Homo sapiens: one gene and its partners. The protein of the gene in region 1 binds, or shares a complex with, the protein of each later gene. Each region holds a gene or a part of one and is shown in the gene's direction. Other genes may lie near its edges. The genes, in order: PPIE, ISY1 and PRPF19.

Region 1 (7,126 bases):
GCATTTGGCTGCAAGCCTAAACTTGTACCTTTGTCTTTCCTTGGCAGGATGCTGCAGCAGCTATCGACAACATGGTATGGCTGGGAATCTTAATTCTAACTAAAGTTGCTTTTTGGTGGTACAGAGGCTCCTTATTCATATATCAGTGTTCTGGACTTCCAAAGTTACAAGGTTGCATGGGGAGGTAAAAATTCTCACATGAAAATATTCACTGTGAATTGATCACTTATAAAATTAGTTCTTACTCAGACTCCTTCGCCATTTCAGAATAATGTAAGTCCTCATCATCCTTGTTGACCAGTCTCTCACTGGCTCTCCCATGTTTAGGATAATTTGCAGACACAGTGCAAATTGATTGCACGGTGTAACTGCATATTTTGCAAAATAGCAGGATTTCATGAAGTGTTAGACCAATTTACAATTGAGAAGAGAAATTTAATTATGGCAGGTGCAAATCACTGATACAAATGATTTGGATATTCTGGAAAGGTCCTTGGGAAAAATGATGATGCTCTTTAGTATTTGTGCCTTCCTTGAGATCCTTTTAGTTTTCATGTCTGATAAGAAGTGCAAAGATACCATACTGTTGATAGAATTTTGTTGGAAAAATAATACTTCAGTGCCTGTTACTTTTCTTTCTTTCTTTTTTTTTTTTTTTTTTTTTTTAACAATCTTGAACTCATGAGTTCAAGACTTCTCAGCTTCTCAAGTAGCTGGAATTACAGGCTCAAGCCAACAGGGCTACCTGGGCTACCTGTTACATTTCTTTCTACCAAGTTACATTTCTTTCTACCGATTAGTGCATAGTTAGTCCTGAATATTAATGGTAAGAAACTTGTTTTTATTATTTTTAGTTTCATCACAGTAATTTCCCAGTCAGCCTTTTAAAATTTTTCAATTTTACCACGAAATCTTCATCACCACTTCAAGTGGAGTCACCTTAAATGACCTTTCCTGGTACCGATTATCTTTGGATAATGAGATGTTGTTTTATTTGTTGTTCTGTTATCCATTCACCAAACATATTCATCAGCTGTCAGAGATCATTTTTCTTTCATTTCAAAGCTTATCTTGACTTTTGAAGGTGAACTCAAATACTGGGAAACTGCATTTATTTTTGTAATTTTGGAGTGTTCTGAACCCAGAGTTACTTTTGGTAATACAGGTCTTTGTGTGCTGCTATGAAAGAAAGGGGTGTGAGTTCCCTGAAACCCACAGGTGGCTTTGGGGTGGCTGCATAGCTTACTGGTAGAGGCCCAGGGATTAAGGGAGGACAAATCATGAGTGTGTCTCAGAAGTATATGGAAAGCTGGCTGGCCCTCTTTTAACCTAAGAGAGTTTAAGCAGCTGGATTTTCAATCTTTTCAGAATGAATCTGAGCTTTTTGGACGTACAATTCGTGTCAATTTGGCCAAACCAATGAGAATTAAGGAAGGCTCTTCCAGGCCAGGTGAGTAGGAGCAACTTCCAGATTCCCTGTGATGTTCTGCAGTTTGGCCTTAGTTGCATTTTTTGTCTCTATTTACTTGGAAGTAGATGCTAAATGCTGCTTCCTGGTAGATAGGAGTAGATGATGGTTCACATTGGGAAGGGCATGCACCACCTTTTTAGAGAAACAAGTGAGTTTGAGCTTCTCAGCAAAGCCAAAGTGATTGTTTCTGTTATGAGAGAAATTCCTGCCTGAGCTCATCTTTCCCAGTTTTCTTGATATTCCATTCCTGGGGTCTCCATCAAGGGCTGAAATCAGCAAAGGCTACACCTTTGCTTTCGGCATAGCTATTTTCCTTAGCCCTACTGAGAGCTGGACTTCAGGGCCTACATTCTGGATGGGAACTTTCCTTACCCCTGGGAGTTCTCAGTGGGGAATTGTCTGGCATACAGGCCACATAGCATCTTCCACTTTGCTGACCAAAGCAGCTACTTTTCAGTTCAAGCTGACAGCTTGAATGAACATTTGTTTGATTCTTTCCTTTCAGTTTGGTCAGATGATGACTGGTTGAAGAAGTTTTCTGGGAAGACGCTTGAAGAGAATAAAGAGGAAGAAGGGTCAGAGCCTCCCAAAGCAGAGACCCAGGAGGTGAGAATGAAGCTCCTGCTTCCAGAGCACAGGCCGGCGCTGTCCACAGGAGACTTTTTTTTTTAAGTTTTAATGGAAATTTGCCAATATGTATATCAAAGTGGAGGGAATGAATAATGAATTCTTAGTACTTTGGTAAAGTCAATATTGAGTTCTTAGTACTTTGGTAAAGTCAATATCGAGTGAATTCAAGGGCGAAACTTTGGGTCTCTTGTCCATGTTGTGTTCTATGTGATGAGTGTCTCAGCTCTGCTCAGGTATGGATTTGTGATTATCAACTGACAGGGAGGAAGCTGAGGTGCCCCTCTTCACCCCTCCTGATCAGTCCCCCTCCTTCACTGAAGAGTTTGCCACAAGGGTCGTGGTCTTCCTATTCCTGTGCTAATGGAGGGGAGACAGAATAGGGTAGTGTCCCTTCCTTCAACCTGTACATGGGTTCAGGGTTCTCCAGTCCTACGGGAACCTGCTGGGGCACTTCCCCCTGATTCTCAGCATAGTCTCTGACAGTTGCTTCCTGGGCGTCCCCTCCTCTGAGTACTTTGTGAATGTTGTCATTCTTCTGTATTTCTTTCTTGGCTCATGGTTTCTCTCTCTTCTCTCAGCTGAAACAGTAGCAGTCTATCTCTAGTTTTATGCAGCCTCTGTTATGCTGTTGATCTTCATGGTCTCTTTCTAGTCCTGAGCTTCAGATATTTCTGCCTGCAAGTCTCATGGGCAGCTTAAGTTTGCCTAAAATGGATTCTCCCGCTTCTCTAATCCTGTCTTCCTGTGTTCTCAATCTTGGCTAATTTGCCACCATTCATCCACACATTGACCCACGCCAGAAATTTGAATGCAAATCAGAACTCATAAAGTGGCCATCACAGTCAGTGGAGTCCCCCTGGATCATCCTGTATCCTCTGCTTAGTCTTACCTACTTGGAGCACAATGCAAGGCCCAACATCTTCCACTGTCTTCTGAGCACTTAGGCCTGAGCAAGAGGGCTGCCCCCTTGCTTCCATGTAGTTAGCCAGTGTATATGCAGGGCCAGGCACAGAGGGACGAGGTGGTACATGGATGGGTCTGCCTAACTAGAGGACAGTGGGTGGGCTGGAACTGGCATTTGAAGATACTGAGAGTTGTGGATCATGGACCAGAAAAGTGCTGTTCTGTGACTGTGAAGCAAGAGGAGGAAGCAGATGCATCTGAGGGCAAGCATGATGAGATAACACCCCCGTGTGTGAGGCTCAGGTTAGCCAGTGCTGAGACCTCCTGTCGCTGGGCATCCAGCTGGGTGCTACGGCCATGGCTCCTGCCTCCTGCAGCCCTATCAGGGCCCAAGGCCTTCCCCGTCAGCACTTGCTCCAGCCTACGCACTGGAGTTGTGTTCTGGGTGGGTGTGTAGAATACTCGCACTCCTACTTAGGGCGTCAGGGAGCTCTCTCTAACTAGCAATTTCTTCTGCACCTAGGGAGAGCCCATTGCTAAAAAGGCCCGCTCAAATCCTCAGGTGTACATGGACATCAAGATTGGGAACAAGCCGGCTGGCCGCATCCAGATGCTCCTGCGTTCTGATGTCGTGCCCATGACAGCAGGTGAGCAGGACGCTGTGGTCAGAACGGCGGGACGCTGGTGGCTGAGCAGTGAGCCTTTCCCAGGTTCTTACTGCTTCACTTCTTGTGTCCTTGATATTGCTTCTGACCTAAGTTGATTTGAGGCATCTCAGATCCTGGGATCTAGTAACAGATAAGTCAGAGCAGGTGTTTTTGAAGCTTTATAAGTGCTGGCTTACTGTTTTTTAATCGTTTTTTAAAAATACAAGTAAATAATGTATTCTTTTTTTTAAAGAATAGCATATACATATATTCCAATAATATTTAAGACAATAAATTGAAAATTCATTTTCCCCTCTCTACATCCAGTCCTCAATTCTAGAAGTAACTAGTGCTTTTATTGAGTATTCTTTGTAATTTATTAAATATTGACTTCTATTCTCTTTTTAATCTAAATTTTATTATCTAGACATATAAAGAGTCAATTCAGTTTCACAAAGCTTGTTTTGAAAAAACAGTCGTCCCCTGGTGCTGTCCCTGTGCCCTGCTGCCAACACCATTTGCTGCTCCTCAGAGGAGCGGATTTCAACTCTTAGGTGTTTTGGTTTTTATTTCCATGTTGATAACAGTTTTATATTTCTACTTCCTGTTTTCCATTTTAAACATTATCTTCTGATTTTCTACTTCAGAGAACAAAGAATTAGTTTTTTAAAATCCCCTTCCCTGCCCCCTCATCTTCCCTGTATAGGTACCATAATTTTGGTTAGGTCCTAAGTTATTTTAACAATGTAAGCATCATGTGATAACCTCCTTTCATGCACAGCATTTTGTTTTGCCTGGAATTGATAATTGCCTTGTTTTTGCATAGTTTTCTGTGTAATCATTCCTGATTTTCTCCCAGACCATCCTGCTGGGGGTTTTGCATCCAGGTGTCTGCATCTTGTTAAGGGGAGATGAGGGCAAGGCTGAATTCCTCAACATTCAGTATATAAACTTTCACATAATCTCCATTTGTCATTATGGTACCTCAGCCCTCACTATGCGTAGGATGTCCTAGTCCAGAGACCCTCTGCTTTAACCTACCAAAGACTAGACCCCCAGCTGGCTACCAGGTTGGGGAGGGGTGGCCCCCAGCTGCAGAGTCAGGGAAAGGATCCCAAAGATTAACCACTTTCTTAAATGGGCTTTCAGCCAAACTTACTGTCTCCAGGATTACCTGCACCCTTTCCTCTGAGCTTTTGGAGTGCAAATTGAGTTGCTTCTTGGCTTTTACCAGCTTAAGATTCAGCTTTCTCGGGTCTGCTATATCATTTAGGACTCATCTATTTTGTTTTCTAACTTCAGAAATTTTGTTGCTGTTGTCTCTTCCTCCCTGCTTTTTAAGTTTATTTTTTGGCTATTTTAGCCACTTTAAAGTGTTTGTTAGCAGTAATTACTCTGTTCGAAATTTTTGAATCATCCTAAACAAAACCACTTATTAAAGGTACCTATTAAATAATAACTCCCCATTTTCTCCTCCCCTTAGCTTCTGATAACCTCTAATCTTTGTGTCTATGAATTGGCCTATCCTAGATTTTTCATGTAAGTGGAATCATACAATAGCTGTCCTTTTCCACGCCTTGTTGATTTTGCATAGCATAATGCTTTCAAGGTTCATCCTTGTACCATGTATCAGTGCCTCATTCCTTTTTGTGGCTGAATAATATTCCGTTGTATTTGGATAAATATCTTGTTCATTCATTTGTTGATGGGCACTTGCACATTGTTTTCACCTTTTGACTATTGTAAATGCCTGTGTGAATATCCACATGTAAGTATATGTTTAAATTCCTGTTTTCAATTCTTTTGGATATATATGCCTAGGAATGGAAATGCTTAGTCATATGGTAACTCTGTATTTAACTTTTTGAGGAAATGCCAAACTATTTTCCACAGTGGCTGGACCATTTTACATTTCTACCAGCAATGTATGAGTGTTTCAGTTTTTCCACATCTTCTCTTTTTTTTTTTTTTTTTTTTTTTTTGAGACAGAGTCTCGCACTGTTGCCCGGGCTGGAGTACAGTGGCGTGATATTGGCTCACTGCAACCTCCGCCTCCCAGGTTCAAGTGATTCTTGTGCCTCAGCCTCCCGAGTAGCTGGGATTACAGGCGTCTGCCACCATGCCCAGCCAATTTTTTGTATTTTTAGTAGAGACGAGGTTTCACCATGTTGGTTGGCCAGGCTGGTCTCAAACTCCTGACCTCATGATTCGCCTGCCTCGGCCTCCCATAGTGCTGGGATTACAGGCGTGAGCCACCATGCCTGGCCCACATCTTCTCTTAACAGGTGTGACATGGCATCTCATTGTGGTTTTTATTTTTATTCCCTACTGACTAATGATGTTGAACATCTTTTCATGTGCTTGTTGACCATTTGTATATCTTCTTTGGAGAAACATCTTTTCAAATCTTTGGCTTATTTATTAACTGGATTGTTTGTTTTGTTTTTTTTAAGAGACAGGGTCTTGCTCTGACTCCCAGGCTGGAGTGCAGTGGTGAGAACATGGCTTACTGTAGCTTTGAACCCTTGACCTCCAGTGATCCTCCTGCCTTGACCTCCCAAAGCACTGGGATTACACCGTGCCTGGCCATTTTGTTGTTGAATTATAGGAGTTCATTATATATTCTGGATATTAAACCCATGTTAAATATGATTTGCAAATAAGCATTCTCCTGTTCTGTGGGTTGCTTTGCCCTCTATTGGTACGGTTCTTTGATGCACGTCTTAAATTTTGATAAAATCTAATTATTTTTTTCTTTCACCTCTGCTTTTGGTGTGACATTTAAGAAACCATCACCAAATCCAGAGTCATGAAGATTTGCCCCTATGTTTTCTTCTAAGATCCTTTGGTTTTTCTTTTAAAAAATCAGTTTCCTACCAATTTAGTGTGGTTTTAAAAGGGAACAGAGCTCGAACATGTATATTCAATCCCCCTTCAACAGAATCTCCTATAGTCCTGGCCAGGTGTGGTGGTTTACACCTGTAATCCCAGCACTTTGGGAGGCCAAGGTGGGCGGATCATCTGAGGTAGGAGTTCTAGACCAGCTTGGCCAACATAGTGAAACCCCATCTCTACTAAAAATACAAAATTAGCCAGGTGTATGGTACATGCCTGTAGTCCCAGCTACTCAAGAGGCTGAGGCAGGGGAATGACTTGAACCCAAGAGGTGGAAGTTGCAGTGAACTGAGATTGTGCCATTGCACTGCAGCATGGGCAACAAGAGTGAAACTCCGTCTCAAGGAAAAAGAATCCCTTATAGTCCTTACAAGGTTAGTATCACAAAGGTTTATAATGAGTATCTCTTATTTTAAAACAAAAATATGAACACTAAACCAAAGTTTTTTCGAGGTTTTTTATTTTGTCCTATTTTTTAACCCCAGCGCTTTTTCCTTTCTCAATTCCAGAGAATTTCCGCTGCCTGTGCACTCATGAAAAGGGCTTTGGCTTTAAGGGAAGCAGCTTCCACCGCATCATC
Region 2 (3,275 bases), on another chromosome or scaffold:
CCTGCAGGCCCAAAGTGAAGAAGCCAGAAGGCTCCTGGGGTATTAGGACCCAGCTGGGGCTCTCCTTGGAGTTCTTCCATCCCCCAGTGGTACCTCAGGACCCAGGGCTGCAGACACAGGCTGGTGCTGCAAGGGCTCCTGCCCCATTCTCAGCCTTCCTTCCCTCTCCTTGTCTCATGTTGACCGGAGGGTAGGGGTCTGTCCCTGGTCTTCCTGGTAGGTTTTGTACACATATTTTGCTACTGTGTGGATCCATTTATTTTTATTGTGGAGTGTATACAACAGGTTGCGAACTGGCTGCCTGTGTCTTATTTTGACTTGCACTGCCATTTTGAGGGGAGAAGAATCAATTAGTGGCAAACATTTAAAAATGCAATTTTTTGCAGACCAAAGTATAATTTTAAAAAATGCAAATTTTCTAAAAGACACATCTCTTGAAAAATGAGATGATGTGGCCAGGCGCAGTGGCTCACGCCTGTAACCCCAGCACTTTGGGAGGCCGAGGCGGGCGGGTCACGAGGTCAAGAGATGGAGACCATCCTGGCCAACATGGTGAAACCCCATGTCTACTAAAAATACAAAAAAATTAGCTGGGCGTACTGGCATGCACCTGTAGTCCCAGCTGCTTGGGAGGCTGAGGCAGGAGAATCACTTGAACCCGAGAGGTGGAGGTTGAAGTGAGCCAAGATCGTGCCATTGCACTCCAGCCTGGCGACAGAGTGAGACTCTGTCCCAAAAAAAAAAAAAAAAAAAGATGCACGCAACCCACAAGTCAATGACCAGGTCCCTCTGTGTTGGTTGCTGCTCTGGGCTCTCCGTTAGCCCCCCTCCACCTGCTCCACTCGCTCCTGCCTGGGTGGCAGGAATTTGAGTTTGCTATTCCTGTTTTATAACCTGTTCTGCAGAAACCTATTTTTATTAAAGATTTTTATAAGAAAGGGAAACCTCCATGTCTTCAGCTTGTTCCCTGGGCCAACGGCTCTGAGGTGACAGTGGCATTAGGATGTGACCAGTCACTAAGGGGCACTGCCTTCCTGCAGGGGAGTCCCTGAAGCCCCAGCCCCAAGTGTGGCAAAGACAGGACCAGATCCCAGGAGTCTAGGTGGGAGTGAGCCGACCCACCATGGCGTCCGTGGCCACAGCTGTAGACAGGGCTCCTTGCAGTGGGCTGCACCGTGGCCTGCTGAAAGCACACAGTGGACACGAGCTGAGTCCAGAGCTTCCTCTGAACTGGGGCTTAGCTCTCCAGTGGGGAACCATGGTCAGCGGCTGTAGCCCCTGGGCAAGATGGTGCCTGGCTTCCTGCCCTCTGCAGGGTCATGGGAGTGTCTGGGAACTCAGGGTCAGGGCCAGATGGCTGTTCCTGGGGCCTGGGGCTCCAGCTCAGGCTGTTTGGGAATAGGAGGAACTCTTGGCTTGGAGAAGCCCATCACACAGCGGGAGGCCTGGGATGGTTGGTCTGCGGGGAGCAGCTCAGACTGGGGGTGGCAGAGCCGTGTGTGGCTGTGTGTGGCCAAGTCGGGAGAGTGGCCAGTGCTGGGCCCTCTCTAAGGAGCCCGAGGGCCACAAGGACTGTGGAAAAGGTCTGAGTGAGGGAGTCGGGAGCTAGTGGCTAAGGGACTTGCTTGAGGACGCTCCGTGCGGCCACAAGGAGAGGCCCAGGCAGGACCAGGTCAGGAGGAGGCTGGGGCAGAGGCCCTGGCAGGAGGTGGGTGGGCTTGGTGGGGATGGGAGTAGCCAGGGTGTAGGTGAGGATGGGGAAGGGGCCCCCCTGCCTCCTGGCTTCCCTGAGGGCTGGGCTGGCCAATCCCAGCCCTCAGTCAAGCCCGGAGGCAAATGTGTGCAGGGAGGAGAGGTGTCCAGGTTGAAGCTTTGGGAGCCCTTGGAGGCAGCAAGGCAGACTCGCCTCTGGGACCCAGCACCCAGCTTGGGCCTGCAGGTGGGGACTCAGGAGTGAATATCGTGGGGGCTTTGAGCAAGACCCTCTGGGCCCAGCCTCACCTTCCATACTTTGAAGTCAAGGAGTGGACCTGTGCTGTCTCAGTTTGCTCTGGGGTCTGGGCAGTCCTGTGGTTTGGGCAGAGGCCTCAGAGGGCCCTAGGGACAGACTGACCCAGGTCTGAGCCTCTTGGGAGCGTGCGGATGGCCGGCCTCAGACAGGCCTGGTTGTGGGTTTGTCTTCCAAGGGGCACACGCGCACTCTGGTGCTTCCTGGCATTCAGAAGAGAATGGGGAATCCAGACATCAGGCCTTCCTTCTCCCTGGGAAGGATGGCAGGTGCTTGGAGCCAGGCCTGTCTTGAGAGCCAGGGCTCTGGGTCTTCCTCCTCCAGTGCCCTGTTCCACGCCTTCAGTGCACAAAGCACTCCCCTCCTGGGATCTCTTCAGGGATCCCCGGGATGCAAACTGGCCAGGGATTAGAATTCCACATTTGAGCAAACAGACTGAGAGTGGAGAAGCACCCAGCTGGACATCCTCTAGGTGTTCCTGGCAGAGGCCCTTGCTACTTGTCTGTGCCCAAAGGCCCTAGAGGGTCCTAGATGTGGGACAAGGTCTCAGCAGGGCTCCAGTCCCAGGCCTGGAAACAGCTGGGGGTGGGGGAAGCTGGCTGGGTGGGTGTGGTTATCTTTTCCCAGCTTGTGGCTCCGAGGTGACAGAACCAATCTCAGGAGGCTTTGTTTGGTTAATAAAATCTACTGAATGGTTTATTTTAGCTTTGGCTCTGCCTGTGGTTTCCCGAAAAGCTACTTTTTCATAGTCATGTTTCCATCAACTTCCTTCTTCCCTCACACTGCCTGTCCTCCAGCGTCTAAAACACACCACCTCCCTCCTGTTTTGCTTTAAGACTGGTCACAGCATCCCCACCCAGGCCTCCTGGACCTCCTCCCGCTGCATCCCCAACTGGCTGACCCCATCTGCCCTTGGGCAGTTTATAAACAAGGAAGAAATGAAAACCTTTCTCCTCTTGCCCTGCACTTGCTCTGCAGTGCTGCGCATGCACACCCCATTCCCTGAAACACTGGCAGGATCTGGACCCTAGCTGGGGCTCCTCACCCTGCTCACTGTGCAGCACTGAAAGCAGGAACCCGCCTGGATGGACATCAGGCCTGGCCCAGCACCCAGCTGACTAGCAAGCAGAGGGATCCAGGGGGACGGGCAGCGGCACCCAGCTCCTTCTGGCATCTCACTTGCTGCCCACCTGCTCCACCAGAAAGGATGCAGAAGGCAGTGTCCGTGGAGGGCTGGCCTGGCACTCTGAATCCTGCTTCTCTGCCG
Region 3 (6,665 bases), on another chromosome or scaffold:
AGAGGTTTAATTGACTCACAGTGACTCGGGAGGCCTCAGGAAACTTACAGTCATAGCAGCAGGGAAAGCAAACATGTCTTTCTTTACATGGCAACAGGAGAGACAAATGCTGAGCAAAGGGGCTAAAGCCCCTCATAAAACCATCAGATCTCGTGAGAACTCACTATCATGAGAACAGCATGGGGGTAACCACCCCCATGATTCAGTTACTTCCCACTGGCTCCCTCCCACAACACGTGGGGATTATGGGCACTACAATTCAAGATGAGATTTGGGTGGCGGCACAAAGCCTAACCATAGCACCAACATCACTGTCTTCTACCTCCACATCTTTTCCCACCGGAAGGTCTTCGGGGGCACCAACATGCATAAACCTGTCATCTCCTATGATGATAATGCCTTCTTCTCGGATACCTCCTGAAAGGGCCTGCTTGGTGCTGTTTTACAGTTAACTTTTTTTTATAAGTGGGAAGAGTATATTTAATACCAAAAAAAGTATAGTATAGGCATACCTTGTCTTATTGCACTTAGCTTTATTGTATTTTATGGATACTTTGCTTTTTATAAATTGAAGGTTTTTGGCAACCTTGCCCCAAGCAAGTCTGTCAGTACCATTTTTCCAACAACATGTGTTCACTTTGTGTCTGTGTGTCAAATTTTGGTAATTCTTACAGTATTTCAAACTTCTTCATGATTTATTGTGTCCGTTAGTGATCTTTGATGTTGCTATTGTAATTGTTGGGCGGGGGGGCACCATGAAATGTGCCCATAAAAGTTACTGAATTTATTTGATAAATGAAATGCTGTGTGTGTTCTGACCACTCCACCCACCAGCCGTTCCCCATCTCTCTCCCTCTCAGACTTCCCTATTTCCTTAGACACAACAATATTGAAACTAGGCCAGTTAATAACCGTATTATGGCCTCTCGGTGTCCAAGTGAAAGAAAGTGTCCCATGTCTGTTACTTAAAATCCAAAGCTAGAAATGATTGAGCTTAGTGAAGAAGGCATGTGAAAAGCCAAATAGGCCAAAAGCTAGGCCTCAACACCAAATATTAGTCAAGTTATGAAAGCAAAGGAAAATTCTTGAAGGAAATTAAAAGTGCTACTCCAGTGAACGCACAAATGATAAGAAAGCAGAACATCCTTATTGCTGATATGGAGAAAGTTTCAGTGGTCTGGATAGAATATCAAACCAGCCACAACATTCTTTTAAGCCAAACCATAATCCAGACCAAGATCCTAACTCTTGAATTCTGTGAAGGCTGAGACAGGTGAGGAAGCTACAAAAGAAAAGTTTGAAGCTAGCAGAGGTTGGTTCATGAGGTTTAAGGAAAGAAGCCATCTCCATAACAGAAAAGTACAAGGTGAAGCAGCAGATGCTGTTGTAGAAGCTGCAGCAAGTTATCCGGAAGACCTAGCTAAGATCATTGACGGTGGGTACACTCAACAACAGATTTTCAATGTAGACGGAATAGCCTTCTATTGGAAGAAAGTGACATCTGGAACTTGCACAGCTAGAGAGAAGTCAATGCCTGGTTTCCAAGATGCAAAGATCAGAGTGATTCCCTTGTTAGGGACTAATGCAGCTGGTGATTTTACATTGAAGCCAAAGCTCATTTAGCATTCTGAAAATTGTAGGGCCCTTAAGAAGGTGGGGCTAAATCTACTCTGCCTGTGCTCTGTAAATAGAACAACAAAGTCTGGATGACAACACATCTGTTTACAGCATGGTTTACTGAATATTTTTTAAGCCCCCCATTAAGAGGTACTGTTCAGAAAAATAGATTCCTTTCAAAATATTACAGTGCACCTCATTACCCTAAAGCTCAGATGGAGATGTTTCATGCCTGCAACATCCAATCTTCGGCTTATGGATCAAGGAGTAATTTTGACTTTCAAGTCTTATTACTTAAGAAATACATTTTATAAAGCTATAGCTGCCCTGGATAGTGGTTCCTTTGATGGATCTGGACAAAGTAAATTGAAAACCTGGAAAGGATTCACCATTCTACACGCCCTTAAGAACATTTGTGATTCATGGGAGGAGGTTAAACTATGAACATAAAGAGGAGTTTGGAAGAAATTGATTCCAACCCTTCAGCCCTCATGGATGACTTTGAGGGATTGAGGACTTCCATGGAGGGAGTAACTGCAGATGTGGAGGAAATGGTAAGAGAATTAGAATCCAAAGGGGAGTCTAAAGATGGGACTGAATTGCTGCAATCTCATGTTAAAACTTTAATGGATGAGGAGCTCTTAGGGATGACCAAAGAAAGTGGTTTCTTGATGGAATCTTCTACTGGTGAAGATGCCGTGAACATTGTTGAAATGATAATGAAGGATTTAGAATATTACATAAACTTAATTGATAAAGCAGGTGCAGAATTTGAGAGGATTGATTCCAGTTCTGAAAGTTCTACTGTGGGTAAAATGCTATCAAACAGCATCCATCACAGAGAAATCTTTTGTCAAAGGAAGAATCAAATGATGTGGCAAACTTCTTTGTTGTCTTATTTTAAGAAATTGTCACAGCCACTTCAGCCTTCAGCAAACACCACCCTTGTCAGTTAGCAGCCATCGACATCAAGGCAAGACCCTGCTGGTGGGTCTTGGAAAAAGATGACAACTCACTGAAGTGTCTGATGGTTGTTAGCATGTTTTAGCAATAAAGTATTTTTGATTAAGGTATGTACATTGTTTACTAGACATAATGTTATTACACACTTAATAGACTACAGTATAGTGTAAACATAACATTTTTTTTTGAGATGGAGTCTTGCTCTGTCGCCTAGGCTGGAGTGCAGTGGCACGATCTTGGCTCAATGCAACCTCCACCTCCCAGGTTCTAGCACAGGTGGGCACCATCACACCCGGCTAATTTTTGTATTTTTAGTAGAGACGGGGTTTCCCCATGTTGGCCAGGCTGGTCTTGAATTCCTGAACTCAAGCGATCCACCTGCCTCGGCCTCCCAAAGTGCTGGGATTACAGGCATGAACCACCATGCCTGGCCAACATAACTTTTATATGTAGTGAGAAACCAAAAAAATTTGTGTGCCTTGCCTTATTGCAATATTTGCTTTATTGGTAGCCTGGAGCTGAACCAGCGATGTCCCTGAGATATGTCTGTACATAAACCAGTAACGTACTGTACCTAATTATGTTATACTTTTTTTTTTTTTGAGATTGAGTCTTGCTCTGTCACCCAGGCTGGAGTGCAATGGCATGGTCTTGGCTCACTGCAACCTCCGCCTCCTGGGTTCAAGTGATTCTCCTGCCTCAGCCTCCCGAGTAGCTGGGACTTCAGGCGTGTGCCACCACATCTGGCTAATTTTTTTTTTTTTGTACTTGTATTTGTAGTAGAGATGAGGTTTCACTATGTTGGCCAGGCTGATCTCAAACTCCTGACCTCGTGATCTGCCCACCTCGGCCTCCCAAAGTGCTGGGATTACAGGCGTGAGCCACCGCGCCTAGCTATATTATACTTTTATACAACTGGCAGTGTAGTAGATTTGTTTATACCTGTATCCCCACAAACGTGAATAATGCATTGCATTGTGACATGATGATGGTTATGACATCACTTGGTGATAGGAATTTTTCAGCTCCACTGTAATCTTATGGGACCAGTGTTTGTGTGGTCCGTCGCTGACATGTCATTATGTGACACATGACTCTATGGCATCCTGAACTGCAGAAGGGAGTAGGGGCCTAAGGCTTCTAGGGGGTGGTGGTGACACAAGTTATGTGGGGGGATGGGGAGGAAGTGCACTACAGAGTCTCTCAGGTAATAAAAGTTGTCTCAGAGCAGACCTTAGATAAATAATGCATGACAGTCTGTGACAAAGACTGGCATCTAGTCTTCTCTCTTGTGAGACCAGTTCATTTTCCCTGGTTGAGATTCCCAGGAAGGGGATTCATGATGTTCCTTTCAGATGACCTGCCCTTAGAGAAAGAGGGGCAAGAGACAGGAGGGCAGGACATGGTCAGAGAGACCTTGGTTCAAAGCCCTCAGCGTGCCAAACCACCATACTTTGGGGTATTGTTTTCTGAGATCCAATATTACTTAACCTCTCAGAAAAGTGGGAATGGTAACTATAGACTCAGTGGGGTTGTTGAGGTTTAGATGAAAATACATACAGGTGCTCCTTGATATACGATGGAGCCACATCCTGATAAGTGCATCATAAGCTGAAAATATTGCAAGTTGAACCATGGTAAATCGGGGACCGTCTGTGAATACATAGGTCAGAACGGTGTCTGGCACGTAGTCAGGATTTGCAGTTGTTCTCACTCAGCATTGGGTCTTAGTCTGTGGTGGGATAGAGCAGTGAATAAAACAGACCCGATTTGGGCACTGATGTAATTTATAGTCAGGTTAGTAAGGCAGATGTAGATTAATTTCACATGTACACATTTAATTGCAATTATAAGTGCTAGAGAAGAAAAGCATGAGATGCTGAGAGAATGGGTAACAGGGTTTCTAACCTAACAGTTATGTGGCCCTGGGTACGTGACTTTCCCTTTCAGATCTTGAACTCCTTCATCTAGAAAATGGGAATATTGGCACAGCTTTGCAGGGTGTGACAGCTGGTGTTGTGGAGATGGCATGCTAATATGCTGGTAACAGGGTGCCTGATGCTCACTTAAGATGCTACATGAATGGGAGCTACTGCTGTGTGTGTTGATGAAATTCTCGTCCTCATTAGCAGGTTGTGAGCAGGATACAAGATATTTCTTCTTGCCCCGTATTCTCCTGAGCCCTGCTCAGTGTGTTTGTATAACAAAGGTGTCCATCCTAACAATATGGCTCACCGGTTTTCACCCTGTACTGTACCTGGTGTTTTGATTTAGAACCGAGTTAGGTAGCTGAAAATACAGCGTGAGCTTTTTAATGGGGAGTTGGTTGACTCCAGGTGTGATCCTAAATCTAGAAGGAATTTGGCCAGATGTTCATGAATTTCTGGAGTCCCATGAGGAATGTTGCCCAGCCTCATCTGCCTCTTATCTGGTCCTGCTCTGTGTTAGGGGCCTGAGTGCCCTGGGGTTGGAACACTATGAGCTAGAAAATGCTGATGGACTGTTCCACTTACGAGCAAGTAGTGAGCACTAGGCATAAACAAGCTGAGCTCTGAGGTTTTTCAACTAAACCTAGCCGAACTGCAGTTGCCCAGAAAGCTCAGGTGAGAAGGGGGGGCTGGCATTGCTTTATTCATTCATCCCACCAGTGAAAAATGCCAGGCACTGAGGGAGGCACTGGGGGTAGTGTGCAGGTCAGCCTAGGGAAAACAAACAGGAGCCTGCGGTGTGATAAATACTAATTAGAGAAGGCCTGGTTGTTTGGGAATCTGTTATTAGGGATCAGTGTTCAGACTAAAGGAGGAAAAGCCTTCTCACAGTTGCCTCTTATCTTTCTCCTCAGAGCATAGCGGCCTGACCACAGGGGTGGCCTTCGGGCATCACGCCAAGTTCATCGCTTCAACAGGCATGGACAGAAGCCTCAAGTTCTACAGCCTGTAGGCCCTGGCCCTTCTGATGGAAGCTGGGCCTCATCTCAGTAGAGGGGTAGAATTAGGGTTTGGGGGGGGGGGTGGGGGGAATCTATGGGGGGAGGGGGCTCTGTGGGGTGGGACATTCACATCATTTCACTCTGGTCTGAGTGGTGGCCTGAGAACCATGGTGGCATGGACCACCCTCATCCATGCAACTCCAGGCCCCATGGGAACGGATGTGGAAGGAAGAACTGTCACCCTCTTAAGGCCCAGGGTCGGAGCCCAGGGCCTCTCCCTTCCTGTCGTTCAATGGACGTGGTGGTGGCTGTTCCACACCCATTTTGTTGCAGTTCCTGTGAGACAGGAGAGGCTGAGCCAAGGGAACTGTGAAGGGGATGGGCAGGAGGGCTTGTGCAGGGTTTTGTAAGCAGTGATCTAGTTTCATTAAAAAAAGAAAACAATAACCATAACCACCTCCCCGTGTCTGTCTGCACCAGGAGCACCTGGGACTGGGAAGGTCAAGGGGAGGGAGCACACACTGGGACACTGGCTTCCGGGAAGCCCATCTTCCTTTCCTTTCACAGCTCTTACCCTTTTTTTTTTTTTTTAATTGCACAGCAGAAATAAAAACAAATCTGCAGATGAAATTTGCCATGTCCCTGCGGTTCTTGACCTTGTGTCTAAAGGCCTCAAGTCACTAGTCCTGCCACTTGCCTTGTAGACTTGGTTTCCTACACAAGCCTGGAAGGGAGGGAGACCTGCAGGGAAGATTAGCTGGATCTTGCTGGTGGGGAGGTCTGAGCATCTCCATCAGGGTTCTTTAGTTGTAGGCTTTCTAGCCTGTCCTCAGCTGGCATAAGTCAAAAAGGAGATTTTTTTATTGACTCTGGCGATTGAAAAGCTGTGGTAGGACTGGTTTCGGGACAAAGATCTGATAATGAATGTGCCTTATAGGGAATTCCTGTAGGGTCACGTGACTGCTTTAGATTGCAGGTCAGGAAAGGCCTCTGAAGTGGTGGTGATGAAGCTGAAGCTGGAATGAGAGGGACCTGAGAGGGGAGGAGTGTTGGCAGGCAGAGAGCAGGTTCTAGGGCTGGACTGAGCGAGATATATGGAGGAACAGGAAGGAGGTCATGGTGGCAAAGTCGGGGGAACCATGGTGTACAGTCTGGG

Evidence for each region.
Region 2: PPIE (region 1) and ISY1 share a complex: the UniProt entries of both Homo sapiens proteins name them as parts of the XAB2 complex.
Region 3: PPIE (region 1) and PRPF19 share a complex: the UniProt entries of both Homo sapiens proteins name them as parts of the XAB2 complex.

Annotation. Positions count from the first base shown.
Region 1 is NC_000001.11:39,741,848-39,748,973, forward strand, and holds part of PPIE (peptidyl-prolyl cis-trans isomerase E), read left to right. Parts: intron 1-47; coding exon 48-74; intron 75-80; exon of another isoform or gene 81-184; intron 185-1,368; coding exon 1,369-1,450; intron 1,451-1,976; coding exon 1,977-2,077; intron 2,078-3,527; coding exon 3,528-3,651; intron 3,652-7,055; coding exon 7,056-7,126. UniProt on the Homo sapiens protein: Involved in pre-mRNA splicing as component of the spliceosome. Combines RNA-binding and PPIase activities.
Region 2 is NC_000003.12:129,126,852-129,130,126, reverse strand, and holds the end of ISY1 (pre-mRNA-splicing factor ISY1 homolog), read left to right. Parts: coding exon 1-46; 3' UTR 47-2,712; downstream 2,713-3,275. Other genes in the region: ISY1-RAB43 protein, read left to right, coding at 1-39. UniProt on the Homo sapiens protein: Component of the spliceosome C complex required for the selective processing of microRNAs during embryonic stem cell differentiation. Required for the biogenesis of all miRNAs from the pri-miR-17-92 primary transcript except miR-92a.
Region 3 is NC_000011.10:60,890,021-60,896,685, reverse strand, and holds the end of PRPF19 (pre-mRNA-processing factor 19), read left to right. Parts: intron 1-5,422; coding exon 5,423-5,520; 3' UTR 5,521-6,139; downstream 6,140-6,665. UniProt on the Homo sapiens protein: Ubiquitin-protein ligase which is a core component of several complexes mainly involved pre-mRNA splicing and DNA repair. Required for pre-mRNA splicing as component of the spliceosome.